Linked DNA regions of Homo sapiens: all the other regions are linked to region 3. Evidence: fine-mapped expression QTL. A gene starts in region 3. Each other region holds a variant in brackets. All regions are shown on one strand. Distances are from middle to middle.

What was found.
Region 1: its variant is fine-mapped to the expression of HPGD in whole blood (TOPMed, PIP above 0.99).
Region 2: its variant is fine-mapped to the expression of HPGD in whole blood (INTERVAL, PIP above 0.99). The same link has a PIP of 0.9 or more in blood mononuclear cells.

Annotation. Positions count from the first base shown.
Region 1 is chr4:174,577,796-174,586,442 of GRCh38, reverse strand. No RefSeq gene overlaps it. Among named protein-coding and RNA genes, the nearest start is that of HPGD, 60 kb to the right of the region's middle. RefSeq lists an enhancer at 1-280. The variant A/G (reference allele first, on the strand shown) is at 3,824.
Region 2 is chr4:174,415,711-174,424,357 of GRCh38, reverse strand. It overlaps MIR4276 (microRNA 4276), which reads right to left and starts at 563; the gene lies at 494-563. The variant G/C (reference allele first, on the strand shown) is at 3,850.
Region 3 is chr4:174,518,684-174,527,330 of GRCh38, reverse strand. It overlaps HPGD (15-hydroxyprostaglandin dehydrogenase), which reads left to right and starts at 4,843. Exons shown (of 7, transcript NM_000860.6): 1 at 4,843-4,972; 2 at 5,264-5,387. The coding sequence starts at 4,880. LOC105377548 (a long non-coding RNA gene) reads right to left here and starts at 4,718. Exons shown (of 7, transcript XR_007058492.1): 1 at 4,202-4,718; 2 at 3,910-3,946; 3 at 423-519. RefSeq lists an enhancer at 7,504-8,033.

The sequences.
Region 1 (8,647 bases), 59 kb before region 3:
TTAAGAGTCATCACCACTCCCTAATCTCAAGTACCCAGGGACACAAACACTGCGGAAGGCCCCAGCGTCCTCTGCCTAGGAAAACCAGAGACCTTTGTTCACTTGTTTATCTGCTGACCTTCCCTCCACTATTGTCCTATGACCCTGCCAAATCCCCCTCTGCGAGAAACACCCAAGAATGATCAATAAAAAAATAAAAATAAATAAAAAATAAAAAATAAAAGTCTGGCCCTTCCCATAATAGGCATTATACTTTTCAATAAAGAAAATATGTCCATAATTTTGGTTATTGCCTTTATCTAGGTGTATCACTCAGGGTTCAGTCAAGAGAGAGAAATCTCATAAGTTATTTAAAGAGAAAATAATATACAGAATTTTAAACTACATATATATTTATTAACAAGGTCACAAAAGGATAAAAGGGGAATTGAAAGGGACCATGATGAGTAGCAATTACAGGAAATAGCTAATTAGGGCTGGGGAAACAAAGAAGAGGCTGATGTTATTAAAACCTAGAAACTTGGAGCAACCTCATGAAGGTTAAGTTCGGACTTCTGAGTTAGAAGTGCTTGCAGCTCAACTGATGGTGGTGCATGGGAGCTTGGAGAAGGGCTCCTTGGGCCTGACTCCCCAACTTTTTTTTTTTTTTTATTATGACACCTCAACTTTTGCTGACAGGCTGCCTGCTGCCTGGTGCCAAAATCTGTCGGATGAGATGTGATGGAGCTAGTCTAGCAAGTGTTGGGGAAGCTGCAAACTGGATTCAGCTGCTGCTATAAGGAGGCAGGAGTGTTGTGTCACTAGGGTGAAAAGGGCCATTAGGATGACACTCACAAGAAAAGCAAGTGTTGACTTTACATAGAACTGATGTAGGCTGGGCTGACAATAGGGTCAGAATTGCATTTAGAAAGTAGTTTGGTTTCCTGCTACACACAAAATAAATGAAAAGTCAAGGCCACAAAGTTCTAGAACATAACTCATATTGACATGGTTTTGGCCCAGATTTTCAGACACAGAGTTACCAGTCCACCATCATGGTGAAAAAGACATTATTTTTTCAGTACTAGAAAAGATTCTCATTAAATATCTGATTTTGAGTAAGGCATATTCAGATTGAATATTTCAATTGGCTTAGACATTCATGAAAATGGAAAGCCACTTAAAAGGCATGATTATCAGAGAAACAAAAGTGCAAATAATAAAATACCATCTTTACATGTAAAAGCATTGAGATTTAGAAAGCAATATTCAATCTAGTAGCGTCTGATAATAGTGGCACTCATACATTACTAATAGAATCTAGGGAATAAACTGTAAATTTCTTTCAAGAAGAGCAAAATGTTCAAACTTTGATCTTTGATTCAGTCAGTGCAGATTTACATTCTAATAAAAGGAGCTTTATACATTGATTTATATATAAAGAAATTTATTGATATACTTATTATAATAAAATGGGCAATATGTAAATACGCAATAGTAGAGACAAAATAAAATATGTGATGTTGTAACTATATGATAGACTTTTATTCAGCCATTAAAACATATTTGCCATGTTCTCAAAGACTATTGATTAATTCTGATATATACTAAATTTTAAAGTAGGATAAACTGCAAATACACAATATTATCTCATTAGTAGAAAAAAATATGCACTGTGGATGTAGAAACTAGAAAATATACATCAAAATTTAAAATAAGTTACCCATGATTTTTCACCAATTATTGGTGTTTTCAATCTGTTCATATATGTTTATATTTTTCAGTTTGCTACAGTAGACATTTACCATTTTAATGATCATATCTATTTTAAGAGTTATTACAGATTGCTTTTGAAATATGTTTATACTGTTCAAAAATGAGTGTTTTGATATCATTGATAATAACAGCTAGCACAGAAGCCTTGGCTTAATAATTTTCATCCCATCATAAAAAAAATAGGATACCCACATAAGCATGGCAAAATTAATAGAAAAGGAAGATCCTCAAACTTTAAAGAGAAAATAGTATAGCTCATATTCAACTGATATACCATTACTATCACATTATGTGATAGTATCATGTGATATCAGTTGAATATGAGCTATACTATGAGGTATATCAAAAAACAATACTTTCAGACCTCCACAGTTTGCTTAATATTCCTTTTATAATATCAAGATTTAAAACAAATTATGGTTAATGTGCTACCCATCAGAAACTGGTTATAAGCTCTTATGCTATTCATGGTGTACAGCTTTGTGATAAATATACAACATATTTTGTTGTCTTACTCTCAGTTGAGGGTCCATTGCATAGAATAAAGGATTGTTAAGAACCCATATAATCTAAAAAGAAGTTCCAGCATCTATGTGGAACTTGCTAATGAGGTTTTTTTTTTTGTTTTTTTTTTTTTTTTTTGAGACGGAGTCTTGCTCTGTCACCAGGCTGGAGTGCAGTGGCGCCATCTGGGTTCACTGCAACCTCTGCCTCCCAGGTTCAAGCAATTCTCCTGCCTCAGCTTCCTGAGTACCTGGGATTACAGGAGCCTGCCACACCACGCCCGGCTAGTTTTTGTATTTCTAGTAGAGATGGGCTTTCACCATGTTGGCCAGGATGGTCTCTATCTCTTGACCTCGTGATCCACCCGCCTCAGCCTCCGAAAGTGCTGGGATTACAGGCATGAGCCTCCGTGCCCGGCCCCATGAAACTTTTAAAAAATTATCTCGGCCGGGGGCGGCGGCTCAAGCCTGTAATCCCAGCACTTTGGGAGGCCGAGACGGGCGAATCACGAGGTCAAGAGATAGAGACCATCTTGGAGACTTCCTTTCCTACCCCCGGGCCCAAGGTCAAAGATAAGCAAAGCTAGACCCTAGTTAAAATGGTAAGGACAGATTTTCATCAGTAATAACTATGTCAATAGAAAAAACGGTCCAAAGTGAACTGAACTCCAATTTGTACAGAGATGAGCAAGTGTTTTAAAGGGAGGGTGAGGGAGTAAGGAGAGGGAACTAGAGGCTTAGCAGAGTCATGGAAGTGAAAAATTACAGAGGGTTAGTTAGTGTAAATGTCATTAGACCAGCTGTGTCCACTAACTGACAATTATCAAAGATAGGACCCTGTTCTCCCCAAGAGACTCAGAGACAGAGGCCCTTTTCTCAGGTGTTGCCTGGAACGAATAATACATTTCTTCGGCAGCCTTGAGTTTTCTCAGACAGGCACTTTAAGGGGGGCAAAGGTTATTTTGCAGATGCGACTTTGAGTTTCTAGAAACTACATGAGTGTTGTTTAAGTCTTAATAGGCCAAGGCTGAAGTCTAGTTAAGAAGAGGGCTCAGAGAAGCCTGGCTATAATCTGTATAAAAGAGAGAGTCTTTGTCTCAGCATTAAAAAACAAACAGTAACTGAGGTGATAGAAGTGTTAAGTATCTTGATTGTGGTAATCATGTCACTATCATCTATCTGTCTGTCTATCTATCTACCTAATCATCAATCTATCTATCTAATCCTCACATTGTACACCACAAATTTATACCACGTTGTCAATCAGACCTCAATAAAGCTGGGGAAAAAAGGAATGAGTCTTTGTCACCAAATCCCCAAGCTAAGTGAAAGCAATGAATGGAGGATGGCCTGGTGAGCTCTGGATTAGAGAAATGCAGGGTCTGCTACCCGATGCATGGTCGAGAAGTCTAGAGGCAAGGATTGCATTATAAGAGAAATATCAGCATTTGGAATCTGCCATGTCAGAGGGCTCCAGTAGGAGATAATAACTGCGCCAGTCAGGTAAGAAGTTTTGTGCCCCGTATCACTTCCCCATTAATCAATCTCCACTCTCACACCCAACC[A/G]TTAATCAGAGGTTGCATAGTAAACACAGGGGAAGTGGAAGAAACAGATGAAGAAAGAGTGCATAAACAAAACCTACTTCTTACTGCAGATTTTCCAGAAGCAGGACTGAGGTAGGGAAAGAGAGATTTAAATCTGATCAGATATTAGCCGGGCATGGTGGTGGGTGCCTGTGATTCCAGCAGCTTGGGTGGCTGAGGCAAGAGGATCACTTGAGCCTGGCGGGTGGAGGTTGCAATGAGCTGTGATCGTGCCACTGCACTTTAGCCGGGGCAACAGAGCAAGATCTGTCTTAAATTAAGAAAAAGAAAGAAATCTGATCACATATGGATCATTTTCTATTAGGCTGCTCTTTCTATGCTGGAAACTGATGCTACTCATTAATTCCAGAAAGTAGCTGACAAAGCTGTGGAATCCTCATCCATGGATAGAAAAGAACAATTTGGCACATTAAGTCAAAAGGAGCATTTAGGGAGAAGGAACAAAGTTACTTTACGTTTGTGCCTATTGAAATCCTGCTGATGCAATAAACTGGTTGCATAAGCATTGTACACAACAACAAAAGCATTCCAAATAAGGGAAAAAATAAAAAGAGAAAAAAGGCTTATACTACAAATAATTAGACAGATTTTATTCCAAAGGCCCCCTTTTTTTTTTTATTTTTTTGGAAAATGCAACAGAAGATTTCATCAAGGGAGGCATATATTTTGAGAAAATGTCTTCTGGTTTTTAAAAATACTTGTGTATAATACCGCAGTTGCTATTAAACTTATACCCTATATAAATGTGATGGAAGATGAGGCTCAGCCATTAAAAACAAGTTTCAGGAACAAACTACAATCTATTTACACAAAAATAAAGCACGTAGACATCTGATTTTCACAGCCCAGGGGAATTTGATGTTGGATAACTGAACAGACCTGCCAGTGTTTATTATTTCCATCTATAGATTGAAGGGCATATAAATTATTTCAGTGCAGTAAAAATCCACTGTCAGGAGTATGAATGTTGAATAGGAAAGAGGAGAATGTTTTTCCAGTTTTCCAGAGGAGAAGACTTAGGTGATCCCAGAACCACTGAAGCTTGAGAAGGAGAGAGGCTGCAATTCCAACAACTCTCTTAGTGGAAAGGGGCAGCAAATCACGACTCTTGGAAGCAGCAGAGGGAGGGAGCATGTATCTCTGAAAAAGCGGCCTAGTGTCCTTTCTGGAATTAAAGCCTGGGGCCTCTGAGCCCTTTATATACAAGAATAGGAGTGTGTTGGACCATAAGACATGAAACGTCTGGATGAGACATTTAAGTAAGGTAGCGGTAACAGGAGTCATAGAGTGATAGTAATATTAATAATAAACATTATTAAGCAATGCACTAAAGACCATATAAACATCATCTTCTTAGCATAATCATGAGAGACAGATATGATCTCCATTTGACAGATAGGAAACTGAGCCTTACAGAGTATAACTGAATTAAATTTCCAACATCACATGGCTAGTAAGTTGTGGATCATGGATTTTGGCCTGTGCTGTCTTGTACCAAAATTCATACTCTTTATACATGGTACTGCTCATTATTGCATTCATTTATTTCACTCAGTCAACAAATAAAACTGATTACTTACCTAAAACTTTTCTGTTTGTTTCTGTCATAGGGAGTAAGAGGAGTATTTGGGGAAAATGAAAGTATAGTTATGAAGTTCCTAAGAAAAGCTAAAAAGGGAGTTACTGATTATACTTCACACTACCCTCCTTAGGGATGGGTTTGCACTCACTTGACCTCTCCTCCTCCTCCCTGCACCACCCACAGTGTGTCCTCATTAGCCACATGATCTAACTGTCTGTAATATTTCTTATCATATTAGTCAGCTGCAGTTTGCTTATGTTTCCTGCATGGGATTCAATGAAGATATTCTAAGATTATCATTCAGATATTCCTCTAGGAAATAAACGTTCAAGCAGATATGTACATGGTGGTGATGTTGTGAACGCACAATTGATGCACTTCTGGATCTTTGATCAACTAATTTAGGAAGGACGCGGTAAGCTGTGAAAGTAATGGCAGGGATGGAAGAGAAAGGAAGAAAGGAAGAAACTAGTATCTTTTGAAAGTTTCTTGTACCCAGAAAAGTGGTAAGTGCCTTACACTTCATATAATCTAACCATAATTCTAGGCTCCAGATAACAATATCATCTTTAGCCTCAGAGTTAATGGAGGCTCAGAGAGTAACATGCTTAAGTTCACACAGCCAGTAAGTGGAGCAGCCTGGGTACAAAGCTAAGTCTGTCGGACTCCAAAGCATTCTTTCCACCACATGAAAGAACATGTGTTCCAAAGGAGTTGTACTCAAGTTTACAGATGATCAGGAAAGGGTCATGGAGAGCATAAAACATTAGGGGTCTATTTCTAAGTTTAAAAATAATAGTAAAGTCTAGGGGATTTTAGGAAGAACCCACAGGAGACCAGGAATTTGTCTTCAACCAGACAAGGGGCCAAACCCCTGTATCAGGAACAATGACACTTTGAGTTACATAATTATTATTATTGTTTGTGATAATGATAAGTATAGCTGAATCTCAGTGGTAACTTCTCACTTTCCTGTTCTGAGATAAAGGAACCCCTCAGCCATATAGCTAGACACTAATGTCACTTCTTTATAATATAATGCTTTAAGTTTATCTGCATCCTAGACAAAACGGAATCCAAAGGCACAGGAACCAGGCAAGGGACGGGCAAGGGATTACTGGTCCAGATAATCCTAAGGGTTAGAAAACATGACACATGAAGCTAATGGCATACAAAGAGGAAACATTTAACTTTTAAAGCAAAGCCAAATCCCAGCCAACTGCTAGGAAGATGGACAAACAATACATATTAGAGATAGCCTACCAGAGAGGCAATGTTTAACAGTGAGTAAGACAGAAAAGACTTGAGTAAAATGCCCTGAGCCTGTTGAACAGTTATTCTCAACAAAGCTAACACATGCATCTCAGTGTATTTTCCCAGAAAGGTCATTTTTGTTTTCTCACCCCCAGTTGCGACAGGAAGAATGCCAAGACCCTCTGTTCCTGAGCACAGGCATGGGAGCTCTTTACAGCCGTTGACCTCAAATGTGTCACCATGGCTCACCAGTTAAAATCAGTTGTCATGTGAATCACAAATCATATTCTATAACTAAAAACAAAGTACCGTTTGTTAATAATTGTTTAAACAAACTGTTTATTGATGTATAATATACACAAAAATGTGTACAAACAAAAAAGGTGTACAGCATGATGATTTTCCAAAACAAACACACCCACGCAACCAATATCCAAGTCAAGAAATGAAACATTATCAAAACTCTCACTATGCCTCCTCTCAATTACTATTTTCCTCTTGGTAACCAGTTTCTTGATTTCTAACACTGTGGATTGATTGTCTTTAAACTTTATACAAATGAAACCATATGAAATGTACTATTTTGTGTCTGCCTTTTTTCAGTCAACATTATGTTTCAGGGTGATATGAATCTATTGAGTATAGATGCAGTTTTCTCTTCTTTATTGCTATTTGATCTTCTATCATATGATTACACCACAATTTATTGATTGATTACATTATCAATGAACTTTTTAACATGAACATCTTTTTAAACAGTTGTAATGCATAGAGTGCTGCAGTATGCATCCTTGTACATGACTTTTAGTACACCTTTAGAGAGGAATTGCTGAGTTCTAAGATTTACTGTGTTCCACTTTAAGCAACACTACCAGATAGTTCTGCAAAATGACGTTGTACCAATTGTCACTCCACCGAGTAATCTTTGAAAGTTCCAGTTGTTCCACATTGCCGCTGATACTTGGTGTTGCTCATTATTTCAATCTCATACTTTCTGGCTAGCGTTACCAGATGTAAAATACAGGATGTCTACTTACATGAGAAATATTTGGGATATACTTATGCTAAAAATTATTCATTTTATGTCTAAAATTCAAATATATGTAGGAGTCCTGTGTTTTTATTTGCTAAATTTGGCAACTCCATTCTGGCACATTTGCAGTGGTATTGCTCACTGTGGTTTTCATCTGCATTTCCCTGATGATTAATAGATTGAACATCTTTCCATAAGCATTTTGACCATTTAGATGCCCTCTTTTGTGATCTTCCTGTGCAAGTCTTTGTCTGTTTTCTTGTTAGAGGTGTTAGCTTTTGCTTATTTATTTTTAGAAGTACTTTCAATATTCTTTATTTCTATTCTTTGTCAAATAAATAAGCTGCAAATATTTTCTCCCAATATGTCTCTTATCTGTCCAAGCCCATGATGATATCTTTTGATAAACAATTTGTGGTTTTATTCCAGTCCAATTTTTTAACATTTTCCTTTGCAGATAGTTACGGTATGCCTGGTTTAAGAATTATTTTTCTCTCCTGGAAACAATTCTGTTTTGAACTGGGCAACAGAAGGCTTTGGAAGGAGGAACTCTTGTTGGGGGTTGGGGAAGGAAATGTAACTAACAGATAATTCAATGTGTTTGAACTTTCAGTACATTTATTGATATGTATTTGACACATCAGAAGGCACATTTAAGAAAATATTAGAGATTGGCATGTTGACAACTAAACACCAGATGAAGTGAGAAATTATTAACTCCAGAACATACAAAATGTTGTATGAGAATGGAAAACTAACATGAAGGTCTATATAACAGGTCTAAAATGTTAATATCACAAGAGGGAGTCTCTCTCTCTCTACATACACACACACACATACACACACACACACACGATAAATCAAGTAATAATAGTAGCAGCATAACATGTATGAATACAAAAGGAAATGTCTTAAA
Region 2 (8,647 bases), 100 kb after region 3:
TACAGCCTGGCAAAGGTACACTGCTCTGTTGAAAAATAATTTTTAAATATACTGTTATTAATCTGGAAGAAACTGCAATGTAGGAGATCTAGAAATAGATAATATTAATTTATTCTGAAAAATTAAAAGGACAGACTTGAGTAACAGACAAAATTTCCAAATAAGCAGATCTTGATTTTGAAGTTCAGGTTTTTATTCTATTTTAATTAAAAATCTAATAACAAAATCAAAAAACCCAGAAACAAAATCCTTGCAAATATTTTTCGTTTTGAACTTCTTTTTTATTACTATTATAATTTTTTGTTGTTGTTTTTACATGCAGAGATAGGGTCTTGCGAGGCTGCCCAGGGTGGTCTCAAGATTCTGGGCTCAAATGATCCTCCCACCCCAGCCTCCCAAAGTACTGGGATTGCAGGCATGAGCCACCACACCCAGCCTGTTTTGAAATTCTTTAAGTTTTCATATGAGCTGTCAAAAAGGTTTCTAGCTACCCATTGCTTTCAGACACAGTAGCTCTATTTACGTGGCCACTGCCAGCACATGAGTCACTGAGTCAGACTGTGACATGCCCACAGCATATCCCATTATTTAACTCATTGACTCAAGGAACACATAAGAAAAAATACACAGTCTACAAATTAATCACTTTAGCAAAATTGGCTTTACACATATTCCAGGATACGTGCATGATTAAGCAAGCTATATTTATGTCAGCAGAGAACTATAAATAGAATATTTATTTAGAGTCATCTTATCTAAGGAGATGTCTAATTTTTGTTGAATTTACACCTCAGATGTCAGACTCAACAGAAAAACAGGCAAGACATGCAGTTTTGTTTTATCTTCCTCCACCAGCCCCAATGCCAAATGTCACATGACACACACACATATACACACACACACACACACACGCAAAAAGGTTGTATTTCTCCGGTAGTCAGAATAGCAATAGCGAATTCAATGGTTCTATGAATGTCTGGATCATGTTTTGGAAAGAAGTAACACTTCTGCAGAAATTTTGTTTCCCTGTTTCTCTTAGATTCAAAGAGCTGGCAAACTGCCAAATCGGAAATTCTGCAAACTGGAAGTGCAAATTGTGTTATTTGTATTGTAATCTTTAACATGTGTCATTTCAATGATTCCCAAATCACACTATGAATCAAAATTAAAACTAAAAATGCAGGTTTTGATAAAATAGGATTCAATGGAAATGTAAAATTACATTTTAGCACAGTGTCCTCCATTGAATATGTTTCCTTCTTTCCCTCTTCCTCTTTTCAGTTTAGTCTCACACAGGTTTTAGATTTTATCTGAGGTTTGAGAGTAAAGTGTTGCATACCTTCCAAAAAGCTTTTGCCTTATTTCCAATTATTGCAATGCAATATTAGATAAGAATCCAAATAAGTGTGATTTATGGGTATTGTTACATTTATCTGGAAAAAAATGCAAACTTAAAAGTGTTTGACAGGGCTCACCACATGAGAAACATCTAGACCCTTCTAGCTTGTCAAAGAAATGGAAGACAATTGAAAGAGTTTGTAGTAAAGCGTGGAAAGGACCAATTTAATGATTTTGTTAAAAGAAATGAAAACAATTATGTCATTATAATATTACTGCTATAATATTATATGTTATATGTTGTTATAACAGAAAAAAGTCAACATCTTTCATCATTCATTTTTGAAATTAACTTCTGTCATACAATTGAACATTTGTTTTTGCTTCCTTTTTTTTCTCCAAATATTTGGGTTTAGTTGAGGTTCTGGAAAAAACTTAGTGTTTTACTTTAGACTAAATAAGCTTAAAATTCACTCAATATCAGCATAAAAACTTTTACCGGAACATTTTGCATAGGACCATATTCCTGTTTTCCATAAATTTAATCTACTAAAATCTAAGAGCCAGATCAGAATTCTTTTTTTGGCAGGCGAGCTTAGAGAAAAATTAAAACAATCAGATTGTTTTCTTGAGTCTCTATAAGCATACCTCCTCTGCACAGTGAATTGAAAATCCTTTTGCTTCCACATCTGATAAATAATACAATTAGTAACTCTAATAATTTTTATTTTTGATGGAATGAAAATGCAGTCATCACTTTGTGAATTTTTTTTTTTTTTTTTTTTGAGACATGGTCTTGCTCTGTCCCCCAGGCTGGAGTGCAGTGGCACGATCTCAGCCCACTGCAACCTCTGCCTCCTGGGTTCAAGCGATTCTCCTGTTTCAGCCTCCTGAGTAGCTGGGGCTACAGGCAGCTCCTGTGCCACGATGCTGGCTAATTTTTGTATTTTTAGTAGAGACAGGGTTTTACCATGTTGGCCAGGCTGGTCTCAAACTCCTGACCTCCAGTGTTCCACCCACCTCAGCCTCCCAAAGTGCTGGGATTACAGGCATGAGCCACCGTGCCCTTCTGCTTTGTGAAATAATTTAAGTGAATTCACATGCATGCAACTTCTCCCATGTGTGAAGCAAGTCAAACACAAGAAACATGATCTCCACATTCTGAACAGTAAATGGAATGTGAATATGGAATGAACAAATGTAATTAAACACTTATTCACTGGAAATGGACATATAATGACAAATATAAAAAGAAAAAATATGTAAGAATAATGTACCTGTACTCAAACTTGTCCTTCAGGCAATATTGTGAGAAATTTCTCCACTAAACCCAATGAGGAAACTGAAGAAAGTAAAATATTAGCATCCAATTTTCTTATGAGTTGATTCAATAAGCATTTACTAAATTCCATACAAAGTTTAAAATAACAATTCCTGCAGTCCTAGAGCTCTCATGGTACAGGAGAGAGAAATGTACACAGAAATTTACTGGTGTGGTGAGTACCACAACTTAGATGCTGACAGAGTACAGTGGGAACACAAAAGTGGAAATATGTAATCATGCACACAGACATCACAGAATATTTCATAAAGAAGGTAAATTTTCAGTTGAGTGACATATAATTACAAGGAACTCCCTAGACGGTTGCAGGGGAAAGTAGTTGCAAAGATATGGAAGGGAAAAAGAACATATCGTATTTTAGAAGATTTCTAAATGTTTTAGCACATGTGGAATATCTGGAGTATAAACAGAGAGGGAATAACTTTGCCCATTAAAATAAGGAATTAAGAAGCCACCATTATTTTTATTGTTTTTTGTTTTTTTGCTGTCAAATTAATTTTTCATCTTTGGAAATTTGAAAATGGGGAAAACATAGAGAAGAAAATTAAACCTACTTCAAATTCTGTCAGCAAAGAATTGTGTGGCTTGACTACATGCTTTATTCCACAGCCGTGCTTCTAACAGCCTTGCAGTGATACTGATCTGAGGCCATGGGCAGCAAATGAGACTGTCCCCCAAGTCAGCTGGGACCAACGATACTTCTCCCAACTGTCACCAAAATGTTCTCCACTTATTTTCCACAATGATGCATTCTTTTCTCAGTCTTGGTGCCTTCTGGATAATTAAATTTTCCCTAGATTTGGATGATATTTCCTTGATTTTATGGTATGTGATTGTTGTTTTCTACTCTTGGCACCAGTAAAGGTAGTTCTCTTTTTTATTATTATTATTTCCTATTGTTTTTCTCCTAGCGTATGACCACTTGTTGAAAAAGGGTTTTGCTCTTAAAGGAAGCTTTGCCAGAAATCCAGAGCACATTTTCTCCTTTAGTTCAGGATTATACATGTAAGTGGCACTGCTGGGTCAAGCAAGAAGTACTATTGAAAGGGTTTGGTATAGAGGCAAGTCGCTTTCTGAAAAAATGTCAATTTTCATGCCTATGATGGCATGTGAGATGCCATTTTCTAGCATGCTTACCGACAATGGGTGTTATCTTTTATTTTTGCAAA[G/C]AGTTGAGGGATTTTGAAGAATCATGGTGATAAAATCAGCATTTAACTTTCTTGCTGTCACTCTTCCCGCAGCGTAGAGGATACGCTGAGCATACAGGGTATGGTCTGGTTTGCAGGCCAAAAGATAAGGTAGGTGGTTTGTGAAATAATGTAGATGAGAAAACATAACCAAGGAAGTGGCAGGAAGAAGAAGAGAGATGGAAAAAAATTTGAGAGACAGGAAGGAAATATAAATATAGTAACCAAGAACACGTTGCTAAAGGGGGCAATAAAAATAATTCTGAAAATCGCTGGTCTCTACAAAGCACTGTACACATATTAGTTCATATAATTCTCACAAATTTAGAAGATAGGTGTTATTATTATGATTTTTCAGATTTGTAAAATAGGTTAAAGTAGACATTTAGAAAGTTGTATTATAATGATTGTACTCACTTGTATATAGGAAGCAAGATAATACATATAGCTATGCATTGAGTGTGAACTGCTTGTGAGACATAATCATATAGTTAAGTAGATTCAGGGAAATGTGGATTTGGAATTTAAGACAGAGAGAGGAATCATAAAATTTAAAACTTGACAGTCATTAGGATATCTGGTTCCCCCAATAAATCTAAGTCTTAAAGTAAGGCAAACCTTATTTATGAGTTTTATACATCAGATATATTATATGAATATAGCATGTCTCTTTCTCTCAAATAAGTAAACTGCCTTAAAAAAAGATAGTATCTAATCTACATACTATGTGAAGAGCAATACTATTTATGCAGGAAAAGGATAGGAGGGAGAAAGCAGAGAATAATACCACCAAGGACAGATGTTCGCAATATGTAAACTGAGTAAAGTTCCTTGAAGGAGTGAGATTTAAAAATATATATCTGGGGCCAGGCACAGTGGCTCACGCCTGTAATCCCCCAGCGTTTGGGAGGCCAAGGCAGGTGGATAACTTGAGCTCAGGAGTTCGAGTCCAGCTTGAGACTAGCTTGGGCAACACTGGGAAAGCCCATTTCTGCAAAAAATACAAAAATTAGCCAGGCATGGTGGCGTGTGTCTGTGGTCCCAGCTACTCTGGAGTCTGAGGTGGGAGGATTGCTTGAGCCAGGGAGGTGGAGGTTGCAGTGAGCCGATATCACACCACTGCACTCTAGCATGGGTGACAAGAGTGAGACCCTCTCTCAAAAAAAAAAATTACATATGCATAATATATAGACTTTATATTCTATATAAAAGACTATGTTATATATAGTATATAGACTTTATATTATATATATATAATATAAGACTACATATAGAGAGAGACTTTGTTAAGTTTAGAAGATGTGGTCAAAAAAGAAAAAGAAAGAAAGGCTCTCTTTATGCATAACGTGTCAGAATTTAGCTATTGTGTCTTCGCTTGCCAAAAGCAACATAGTGAATTGAATGCATTCACAAATTTAGGCCAAAGGTCATGGTTGATAAAAATCTGGGTTCCAGAGATGTTTACTTACTTTTTAATGAATCAGTGATCCTCATTAGGTCAATGACAATACAGTAAATTTTTCTTACCCAAAATCTTTAGCAATAGCTAAATCTTTAGCTTTTCCAGATCGGGATATTTCTTAGTAGTTATAGAAATGACAACTCACCCTCATTTGTGATTTATGATATAATTTAGCTTTTTTCAATCTTGCTACTATCTTTTATGATATTGCATCATTCTTTAGCACAGTTACTGAAATATGACGTAAAATATGCAGAAATATGCCAATCAGACCTTATTTTGTTATCAGTTAGCATCTCTTAAATAGAAAGATAGTACTAATGGCTAAAATTTGTAGATTCTTTTCATGTCTTTGAAAATAGCATGAAAATAAAAAATAAATTAACCAAATCTTAGTAATCAGAGATGCAGTAATTTAATGTTATCTTGGAAAATAAATTAACAATAATCTAATGGGTTATGTTCAAATTATTACCTAGATTTTATGTATGCTAAATTTTTACCAAATTTCTTCACTTCATATTTCCATGTGTTTTTGTTCTTATTTTAACTTAAAGAACTCTTTCTGATAATAGAAATTTTTAAAAAATCTGCACTTTTCTTACTTTCAAGCTTGCACGAGATCTATGTAAAATATTTTTTAAATGAATTGTAGGATTACAGTAACATTCCAAATATTAAGATGGTGTCCATCCAAGGGTATGTCTCCTACCATTTTCTCTAAGTTTTGTACATATTTTCTTTTCCTTTCATTCCTAATTCTTGTAAACCACTATAACACTCATGGTTTGAATACTACAGTGATGATTCCTGCCTCTTTCAAGTGGACGAGCAAATCAACAATATCAATAGGAGAAACAAATTTAAATATTCAAATAAATTGATATTTATTTTATACTTTTTGCTATGCTTACAAAAAGTACTAAATTATGAGTTACATCTGATATTCTAATGATATTTTCATTACATAAAATTCAGCAACCTTTAAAGGGTGGTTCCAAGATGGCCGAATAGGAACAGCTCCAGTTTACAGCTCCCAGTGTGAGCAACACAGAAGACAGGTGATTTCTGCATTTCCAACTGAGGTACCGGGTTCATCTCACTGGGGCTCGTCAGACAGTGGGGGCAGGACAGTGGGTAGAGCCCACTGAGCATGAGCCAAAGCAGGGCGAGGCATCACCTCACCCGGGAAGCGTAAGGGGTCAGGGAATTCCCTTTCCTAGCCAAGGGAAGGGGTGACAGATGGCACCTGGAAAATTGGGTCACTCCTACCCTAATACTGCACTTTTCCAATGGTCTTAGCAAATGGAACACCAAGAGATTATATCCTGCGCCTGGCTGGGAGGGTCCCATGCCCATGGAGCCTCGCTCATTGCTAGCACAGCAGTCTGAGATCGAACTGCAAGGTGGCAGCGAGGCTGGGGGAGGAGTGCCCACCATTGCTGAGGCTTGAGTAGGTAAACAAAGCGGCTGGGAAGCTCAAACTGGGTGGAGCCCACCGCAGCTCAAGGAGGCCTGCCTGCCCCTGTAGACTCCACCTCTGGGAGCAGGGCATAGCCGAACAAAAGGCAGCAGAAACCTCTGCAGACTTAAATGTCCTTGTCTGACAGCTTTGAAGAGAGTAGTGGTTCTCCCAGCACGGAGTTTGAGATCTGAGAATGAGCAGACTGCCTCCTCAAGTGGGTCCCTGACCCCCGAGTAGCCTAACTGGGAAGCACCCCCAGTAGGGGCAGACTGACACCTCACACAGCTGGGTACCCCTCTGAGATGAAGCTTCCAGAGGAACGATCAAGCAGCAACATCTGCTGTTCAGCAATATTCGCTGTTCTGCAGCCTCCACTGCTGATACCCAGGCAAACAGGGTCTCGAGTGGACCTCCAGCAAACTCCAACAGACCTGCAGCTGAGGGTCCTGACTGTTAGAAGGAAAACTAACAAACAGAAAGGATGTGACACCAAAACCCCATCTGTATGTCACCATCATCAAAGACCAAAGGTAGATAAAACACAAAGATGGGGAAAAAACAGAGCAGAAAAGCTGAAAATTCTAAAAATCAGAGCACCTCTCCCACTCCAAAGGAACGCAGCTCCTCGCCAGCAATGGAACAAAGCTGGACGGAGAATGACTTTGACGAGTTGAGAGAAGAAGGCTTCAGACGATCAAACTTCTCCCAGCTAAAGGAGGAAGTTCAAACCCATCACAAAGAAGCTAAAAACCTTGAAAAAAGATTAGACAAATGGCTAACTAGAATAACCAGTGTAGAGAAGTCCTTAAATGACCTGATGGAGCTGAAAACCACGGCACGAGAACTACGTGATGAATACACAAGCGTCAGTAGCCAATTTGATCAACTGGAAGAAAGGGTATCAGTGATTGAAGATCAAATGAATGCAGTGAAGTGAGAAGAGAAGTTTAGAGAAAAAGGAGTAAAAAGAAATGAATAAAGCCTCCAAGAAATATCGGACTATGTGAAAAGACCAAATCTACATCCGATTGGTGTACCTGAAAGTGATGGAGAGAATGGAACCAAGTTGGAAAACACTCTGCAGGATATTATCCAGGAGAACTTCCCCAACCTAGCAAGGCAGGCAAACATTCAGATTCAGGAAATACAGAGAACGCCACAAAGTTACTCCTCGAGAAGAGCAACTCCAAGACACATAATTGTCAGATTCACCAAATTTGAAATGAAGGAAAAAATGTTAAGGGCAGCCAGAAAGAAAGGTCGGGTTACCCACAAAAGGAAGCCCATCAGACTAACAGCAGGTCTCTCAGCAGAAACTCTACAAGCCAGAAGAGGGTGGGGGCCAATATTCAACATTCTTAGAGAAAAGAATTTTCAAACCAGAATTTCATATCCAGCCAAACTAAGCTTCATAAGTGAAAGAGAAATAAAATACTTTACAGACACGCAAATGCTGAGAGATTTTGGCACCACCAGGCCTGCCCTACAAGAGCTCCTGAAGGAAGCGTTAAACATGGAAAGGAACAACCAGTACCAGCCACTGCAAAAATATGACAAATTGTAAAGACATCAATGCTAGGAAGAAACTGCATCAACTAATGAGCAAAATAACCAGCCAACGTCATAATGACAGGATCAAATTCACATATAACAATATGAACCTTAAATGTAAATGGGCTAAATGCTCCAGTTAAAAGACACACACTGGCAAATTGGATAAATAGTCAAGACCCGTCAGTGTGCTGTATTCAGGAGACCCATCTCACATGCAGAGACACACATATGCTCAAAAAAAAGGGATTCAGGAAGATCTACCAAGCAAATGGAAAACAAAAAAAAGGCAGGGGTTGCAA
Region 3 (8,647 bases):
TTAAGTAACTATCCAAAAGTCACAGAGCTAGTAGATGGTAGAGCTGGATTAAAACCCAAGCGGTCTGATTCCAGAGGCTGTATGTGTAGACAGTAAGAGATGGCTGCTTCTGAGTAAATGTTCAACACTCAACACTTGTAATTGCATTAAAGGAATAATCACCTCTCTTAACTTTGCATCATTGCGCTGCATTTGTTTTTAAGAGAACTTCGTTTGCAAAACTAAATCAAATACAGCTCTCTACATGCTAGGAAGCCATGTGTCAGTTAAAACATAGCCACTCTCCATGCCCTCAGGCCTTTGCCGTTTGATACCCGCTCCTCTTGAGTATCTTTGCCCTCCCACTTTCTTCAACTGTTTTCCTATGCAGCTATCAGATCTCTACCATGGAAATACCAATCACAGGATCATAAGGAGCTTACTCTCTCTGGATGTCTTCAAAGAGGGCTCTGTCTTTTTCTCTGGATCCCTTCCAGCTGACGCAGCACAGGGCCACCCAAAGTACACGCGCAATACACGCTGACCAAAGAAAAGTATATATAAATATGAGATATGTGTTCAAGAGAAGATGGAAAATTTTAATAGGATGGTGAGATTTCCCATATGTTGTGATTATCTTTTTATATAACAGAAATATATTGATAATGGGTTTTTGGAGAAGAATGTTCCCATATTTTATATTAAAAGTCTATTTTGAATTTAAAATATCTATAGAACATTATATGTGGTATATTATAAAACCAAAAAAGGGCTGCTTACCCAGTCAACATCTCCCCACTCCTCTGATTTTTATATGCATTTCTCAGCTTCTATGTTCAGGACATTACATCAGCTATATATTTCTGTCATCACAGTGATTTGTGTTATTAAAAACATAATTCTTAGCTAAAACAAAGTTAAATTTGAGATAAACCATCATCCATATAATTTTGTAAGAACATTCTTATTTATAGGCTATACAGGTGAGTGTCCCTTATCCAAAATGCTTAGGACTAGAAGTATTTCAGATTTCAGAATTTTGGGGGGATTTTGTATTTGCATGTACATAATGAGATACCTTGGGGCTGAGACCTAAGTCTAACCATAAAATTTATTTGTTTCACATACATATTATACATATAGCCTGAAAATAATCTTTTGCATTTTAATAATTTTGTACATGAAACCAAGTTTGTATCTAGTACTTACATGTGGAATTTTCCACTTGTCATGTTTCAGATTGTTGGAGCACTTTTTAACAAAAACTTTCATTTAAAAAAGATTATTGCTTAGGAGTGGGGGCCAGGGAGGCAGTGTATAATGACACTATCTTTGTTTTGCTAGATAAGTAAGTAATTTATGTCTATTTGGAGACTTTATGGCAATAAATGATCTAGTAGGTTAGCCAATTTGGTTGCCCTGATGGCTATCTACCAAAAAGATTTAATTTGCCCCGTGTTCTACATGATTTAGTCATCAGGGACATTTGGGAGGATTTTTTCTATTGGGAGATATATTAGGTTAGGCTGTGATAGAAAATAGAAACAAACATGCAAAGGCTCAACAGATAAGAAGTTTATATCTTGCTTACATCACAGTCCAGGAAGGCTCAGATTTTGGAGCAATTAGGATTTCAGATTTTTAGATCAGGGATGCTAAACCTGTGACTGACACACAGCTTCCTGGCATGTAAAGAAGGGCCACAAGAAAGACATGGGGCATGGAACACCTCAGATGTGATGCCCAGGAGTTTAGATATTTTAAGGATTTTAAACATGAGAATATCTAAACACGATCAGATCAGTTTTAGAAATTTTCCTAGGAGAAGTGCAGAAGGTAAATTGGATTTAAGAAATGTGGAGCAATTAAATGAAATAAGTCAGGTACAGAAAGATAAATATTGCATGTTCTTAGTCATATGTGAAAGCTAAAAAAAAACCTTATAGAAGTAGAGAGTAGAATTGTGGTTATCAGAGGCTGGGAAGGGTAAGGGGAGATGTGTATAGGGAGAGGCTGGTTTACGGATACGAAGAAACAGCTAGATTAGAGGATAAGTTCTAGTGTTTTCTAGAACACATGTAAGGTGAATATGGTTAACAATAATTTAGTGTATAGGTTCTAAAAGCCAGAAGAGAGGATTTTGAATGTACACAACACAAGCAATGATAAACATTTGAGTTAATAAATATGCTAATAATCAAATATCCTGATTTTGTCACTATACATTGTATACATGTATTGATATATCACTCCGTACATATATATCACTCTGTATATATAGATCACATAAATATGCACAGTTATTCCATGTCAACTAAAAAGGGAAAAAATCCTTCCTTACAAAGATCACTGTTTGGTAAGCAGTTTAATTCACTGTAATAAAAGCATCTCACAATGCGAAAAAAAGTGGGGGGCGTATTTGGAGGTAATGAGAAGCTAACTGCTGTTTGCTATCATAGGAGAAAATATGAATCTGGACAGTGGCAGTGGAAATTGAGAGGAGGGAAAGGGATGAAGGGGTACTAAGTTTTCTCTAGACCTCAGTCCTTGCTATCTACTAAAAAAACCTATTCTTCACATTTTTCTCTATCTCACATTTATTATTCATTAATATTTCAGAAGTAATATGTTGGGACTAATATTAATGTATTAATACTTTGTGGCAGGCTCTGTAATAGTGTTTAATATGCTTCACCTATTTTAATTTTCACCTTTTTTTTTTTTTTTAGAAAAGCTTACTTTATAATAAGGAATCTGAGACCCAGAGTTGAAGCAAATTGCCCAAGGTTACACAGCTGGTCAGTAGCAGACACAAGATCCAAACCCGGTTTGTCTGAATCCAGTGCTGACGTCCTTGTGCCTCACCTATCCGCCACCGCCAAACTGCTTCCTGTTCTTCCAGTTGTCACTATCCTTGACTCATTGCACTTTGACCTCAATCAATCTTCTTATCTTTTCTTAAAAGAAAAACATGTTTGCTGTCTAATCTTTTCAACTATTATCCAGTCCATTTCTCTTTCCATGTAACCTTGGTCTTCAGTCCATGACAATATCTATCTTCTCACAGATCATTTCAGCTGTTCAGTTTTTGTGCCTTCTAAATTTACTCACACTAAATATTGTCCTGAAAAATTCAAAATATTTCTCCATCCTTTATTCCCTGGTGCTCACCTGAGTATTTTGCATTATTAACTACTTCTTTCTTCTTGAAAGTATTTCTCCCACAAGAGCTGCAAACCTGTGTTCTCCCAGCATGTTGCCATTTTACCCCAGCAGTTCCTTTTCTGTCTTTTTTGCCAGTTCCTTCATCAGAAACTTCTATGTTCTGTGCATGCCATTAGAGGAGCTGAAGTTTTGTTTGGTTCCTTGTTTTCTTTTTGTCTTCTACTATTATTCCCTTTCAATATGACCCCTCAATTTACTCTTCATATTACAATTTTAATTATCATCCTAGAGTACAAATATCTATTTTCCTGTTTTAATTTCTCAAGATTTTGTCAAGACCTAATTTCAAATTAATGTTAAAGACATTTGCTTAGCGGCTTACCAACAACGCGACAAGACACATTTTACACAGTCTCCTCATACACTCCTTCCCTGCTGAGCCAGCCACCTTTCCCAGTAAAGAAGGTAAAGAAGATATAAAAATGATTCATTCTGCTGTTAGTGTCAGTCTTTTGCTCAACTCCCATTTCCCCCAAGTATTTAGATTTTTTTTTTCTTTAAGAAAATAAATGCCAGCTGGGCATAGTGGCTCATGCCTGTAATCTTAGCACTCTTTGGGAGTCCAAGGTGGGAGGGTCGCTTGAGCCCTGGAGATTGAGGTTGCAGCGAGCTGGGATTATGCCACTGCATTCTAGCCAAACAGACAGAGCGAGATCTTGTCTCAAGATTAAAAAAAAAAAAAAAAAAAAAAAGCCAACCACTTACGTTTACAGAATTAAAATTGCAGCCTGCCGCTGACAACCTGAGAAAAAGAGACAAAGTCAGTGGAATAGCCCTTGTTATTTATGCAAGTCCGCATACAGCTAGCCCTGGAGTTCCTGGAGAGCAAGGAACCTCTGTCCCAAACTTGACTCAGAGCTTCCAAAGTTGGTGTATTTCAACAAGTAAGCATTCCATTGAGCCAACAATTTGGTAGGCTACCAGCGGCTCTGGAGCGCCTGTTGATGATGACAGTTTTTGTGGGGGCATCTCAATATGACACACAATTGACACTGACCAGAAACACAGCGCCAAGGACACTCTAGTCCTAGCCATGAAATGTTATGATTCCAGGTTTTCAGGACAGAGCAGAGTCCACTTCTCATCTCCAGTATCCGTAAAAATTTGTCCAAAATGTAACTAAGAAAACACAATGATATTAGTTACTTCTGCTCCCCGTCACCCTCAACCCCACTGATTACGAGATGGGAACTCACACAAAACTTTGAGACAAAAGAGCAACAAGTTTGCTTTATTGTTTGCTTGTTTTGTTCCGGAGTCGGGGCCGGGAGGGAGTGCAGGAGGAGGGATCCAAGCTTCCAAGCCTCTGCTCCGCTCTCCTTCTATCCAGTTGGTCTTTAGGGCACTGAAGGAAACTCTTCTTCAGAAATAACCTTTTAACTTTTCTTCTGTCAGCTGCCTGCCAATCACGGAGCCAGAGGCTGAGGGGAGGCTTTGAGCCGGTCTGCGAGTCCGGAAGGCAAAGATCGCGAAGCTTGGCGCTCCAGAACGCTCAGGGGGCAGGTGACACAGTCGTGGGTTCCCCGGCGGGCGCTGGCTTGACAGTTTCCTCCCCGCCCACTGGCAGGGGAGCGCCCCGCCGGGCTGCACGCGCGCGCGCGCAGGGGGGCATAAAAGCCGCGGCCGCGCGGAGACGCGGAGCTCGCCCACCGCCCGCCCCAGCAGTGGCTGCACCATGCACGTGAACGGCAAAGTGGCGCTGGTGACCGGCGCGGCTCAGGGCATAGGCAGAGCCTTTGCAGAGGCGCTGCTGCTTAAGGGCGCCAAGGTAAGCCCGGCGCCCAGCCGCGGAAATTTCTCTGCCCACACACTCCGAGACTCGCCCCGCCGCCCGAGGTGCACTGGCGGAGACAGGGAGGCCGCGCCCGGCGTGCCCACTTTGCCACTTCCAAAATTTGCTGAAGCTGAGGCTGTGAGCACACCTCAGAAGTGGCTGGGAGGGAACCCAAACCTAATTGCCAAATTTCAGGTCCAGGAGGGGAGCCTCTTGTGTGTTTATTGTTTGTCCGTCTATTTCGTGAGCTGCGCAGGCCCGCGATTCCTCTCCTCTTGTCTATAGGTAGCGCTGGTGGATTGGAATCTTGAAGCAGGTGTACAGTGTAAAGCTGCCCTGGATGAGCAGTTTGAACCTCAGAAGACTCTGTTCATCCAGTGCGATGTGGCTGACCAGCAACAACTGAGAGGTAAGACAGGGGAATCAATCTGTCAACTGGGAACGTGCTCTCAACAAGCAACAACCTGAAGGCAGCCCGGCCAGGGGGCCCTGGGTGCCGCCTCCGCTGCCTCCTCGAGAGCAGCTACCTTGAAGCTCCAAAAGACAGTTTGGACTGATACGTTTCCTTCTGACAGCCCAATAGCTGTAAAACCGAAAGAAAGGCAAGACTGCTGGAGAAATCCTTTTATTGTAGTCATTTGGCAGCATTAATGTAATCAAAATTCCTTTATGTATTCAAAGACAGTGCTGCTGCAGTAATTATTAAATGATTGAAATTGCAGACAAAACTTGGAAAATTAAAGTAGGTTAAGTAAGGTACTGTTGACAAACAACTTCTCCCAGAAAGCTGGAGTCCAATGACAATCAAATGTGGCAGTGTTTTTCGTTTAAACATATCAGAATACAAGTTCAAGGAGCATCATCACAGAAGTGCTAGATGCTTTTGACCATATGTTTTCTCCGGCTTTTTCCCCAATGAGACAGTACTTTAAAATAATAATAATAGTAATCATAATAAAGTATACAATGTTAGAATTGTAGTAGAAACATCTCTATCAGCCTTTCCTCAATGCTTTCCTGTTTCCGGCTACTCACTTAAAATAGACCAATCTACTTGTGAAGTATCAGGGACAATATTGGCATACACAATAAACAGCTTTGATTATAAAGCTGTTTTTTTTTTTTTTGTACATCTATTGGAGAACTTGAGAGTGCCCCAATAAACTTACAGGAAACAAAAATTCTGGAGAAAAACTAGAAAAGTAAAATATTTGTATTTCACAAAGTTTTATTCAAAGAGACTGAGTAAATTGTAAGGCACTTTTTAATCAAGGGGTCTGAAAACTTTTGCAAATCTTATTCCAGTGCTCCTGTTCTTAAAGGGACATCAAATGTACATTTATTTTAAAATTTTAAAATATTCTGTAAGAGAATGAAAATGAACTGACGTGTTAGAAGGAAGTGGTGTACCAACAGTTAAGAGAAATTGTAAAGGAAATTACATAACTGAAATCTGAAAATGCTAATAAAGACCTATAACACAGATGACAAGCATGAGCAGAACAGATTTGTAAACACAATGCAAGAGGAACATATTGTACCAGAGGACAATTATGTTGATTGCACATGATATTTTGGATCAAGGATAGAGCCAGGTCAGATCTCAACATTCATGCTGATGGCATAAGGAACAGTATAAACAATCTGAAAGCCATTTCTGTCTCAATTTATATAGTTTCATAAATGACATTTAACTACAATTGTTTTTTTCCCAGTATTTAAAATTAATACCTTGGCTATAAACTCATTCCTTAAGGATAAATGATTGTGGAGGAGGAAAAATACTCAGACACATAAGTGACCCGGGAAGGCATGTTGGTCATGAGAAATCCACATGTTGTCTGGACATGAGCATTTGCTTGCATCTAAAGGAAACATGACATTGATTCTTCCAGTTTCAGGATTTAATGTTGCCTATAACTTTTAAAATTGTTTAGACAGTGTGGAAATTATAAAAATATGAGATGAAAAGTTTCTTGGAGATAATCTAAACATAACTTATTTTCCAAATGAACAAATCACAGCCAAGAGAGTTTAGGTAAGTTACAAAGAGTACCATAGCATATAAATGTCAGCAAGAGGTAGACTGTCTGTTGCTTGAGCCTGGAATTCAATGGGATGTCAGAAAACAAGATGGTATACTATACATTGGTAAGGGCAGAGTATAAGGAATACGGTGGAGAACAGAATGAGGAAAGAAAATTAAAGCGGCAATTAGACATACATATTTAACACCCTCATTTTCCAAAAGGTGAAGGTTGTTTCTGTGGAGTTATGAAGAGTTAGAACATACTCAGAATGGAAGGAGAAAAAAAAAATACTGGGGGACATTTTCTGGACCCAATTTGAGATTTTAAGAAACATTTTTAAGATTCCATGAAAAAAGGCCGGGTGCAGTGGCTTCACGCTTGTAATCCCAGCAGTTTGGGAGGCCGAGGCGGGCGGATCACGAGGTCAGGAGATCGAGACTTTCACTCGCGTCTGTGTGAAGAGACCACCAAACAGGCTTTGTGTGAGCAACAAGGCTGTTTATTTCACCTGGGTGCAGGCTGGCTGAGTCGGAAAAGAGAGTCAGCAAAGGGAAATAGGGGTGGGGCTATTTTATAAGATTTGGGTAGGTAAAGGAAAAAGGGGGGTTGCCCGCTGGTGGGCAGCAGTGGGGGTCACAAGGTGCTCAGTGGTGGAGCTTTTTGAGCCAGGATGAGCCAGGAGATGGAATTTCACAAGGTAATGTCATCAGTTAAGGCAAGGACCGGCCATTTTCACTTCTTTTGTGGTGGAATGTCATCAGTTAAGGCAGGAACAGGCCATTTAAGTATCACTACTTTTGTGATTCTTCAGTTACTTCAGGCCATGTGGATGTATATGTGCAGGTCACAGGGGATATAATGGCTTAGCTTGGGCTCAGAGGCCTGACAGAGATCATCCTGGCTAACACGGTGAAACCCCGTCTCTACTAAAAATACAAAAAATTAGCCGGGCGTGGTGGTGGGCGCCTGTAGTCCCAGCTACTCTGGAGGCTGAGGCAGGAGAATGGCGTGAACCCGGGAGGTGGAGCTTGCAGTGAGCTGAGATCAGGCCACTGCACTCCAGCCTGGGGGACAGAACGAGGCTCCGACTCAAAAAAAAAAAAATCCATGAAAAATAAACAGTTTGTGTTTGTTGTTCTTCCATTCCCGTACAGTGAGTGTAAAAGGTACATATTAGGAAATCTTGAAAATGTTTTTAGTAAACAACTAGCATAGTAATTTATCTATATGGCAACTGATTAATCCATGTCTTCCCCAATATGTCTGGTGGTTGTTAATGATTATATGAATTTATTTCAATCAAAATAAAGCTTATGCTGACCTACTTTTTTTAAGGACTTGATATGTTGGTCTGGACACCTGAGAATATATTTCCGTCATGTAGAAAAACAACCACAATTTTTATCCATAGTGTAAAATAATAGAAGTAGAATGAATGATCAAAGGCCCGGGGAAACAGTTTAAATCAATTAGAACTCTGTCAAAGGCTGCTTTGAGAAACAATAGACATGTGATTGGACAGTGTAATGAAAGACATTCAGGCCTCAGAATCCATGCCAACTTTATCCTGTTTGAACATAGTTTTATACAAACTAGTAATCCTAGTAATCTGAAGTAGTAATAATAGTGAGAAAGAAGA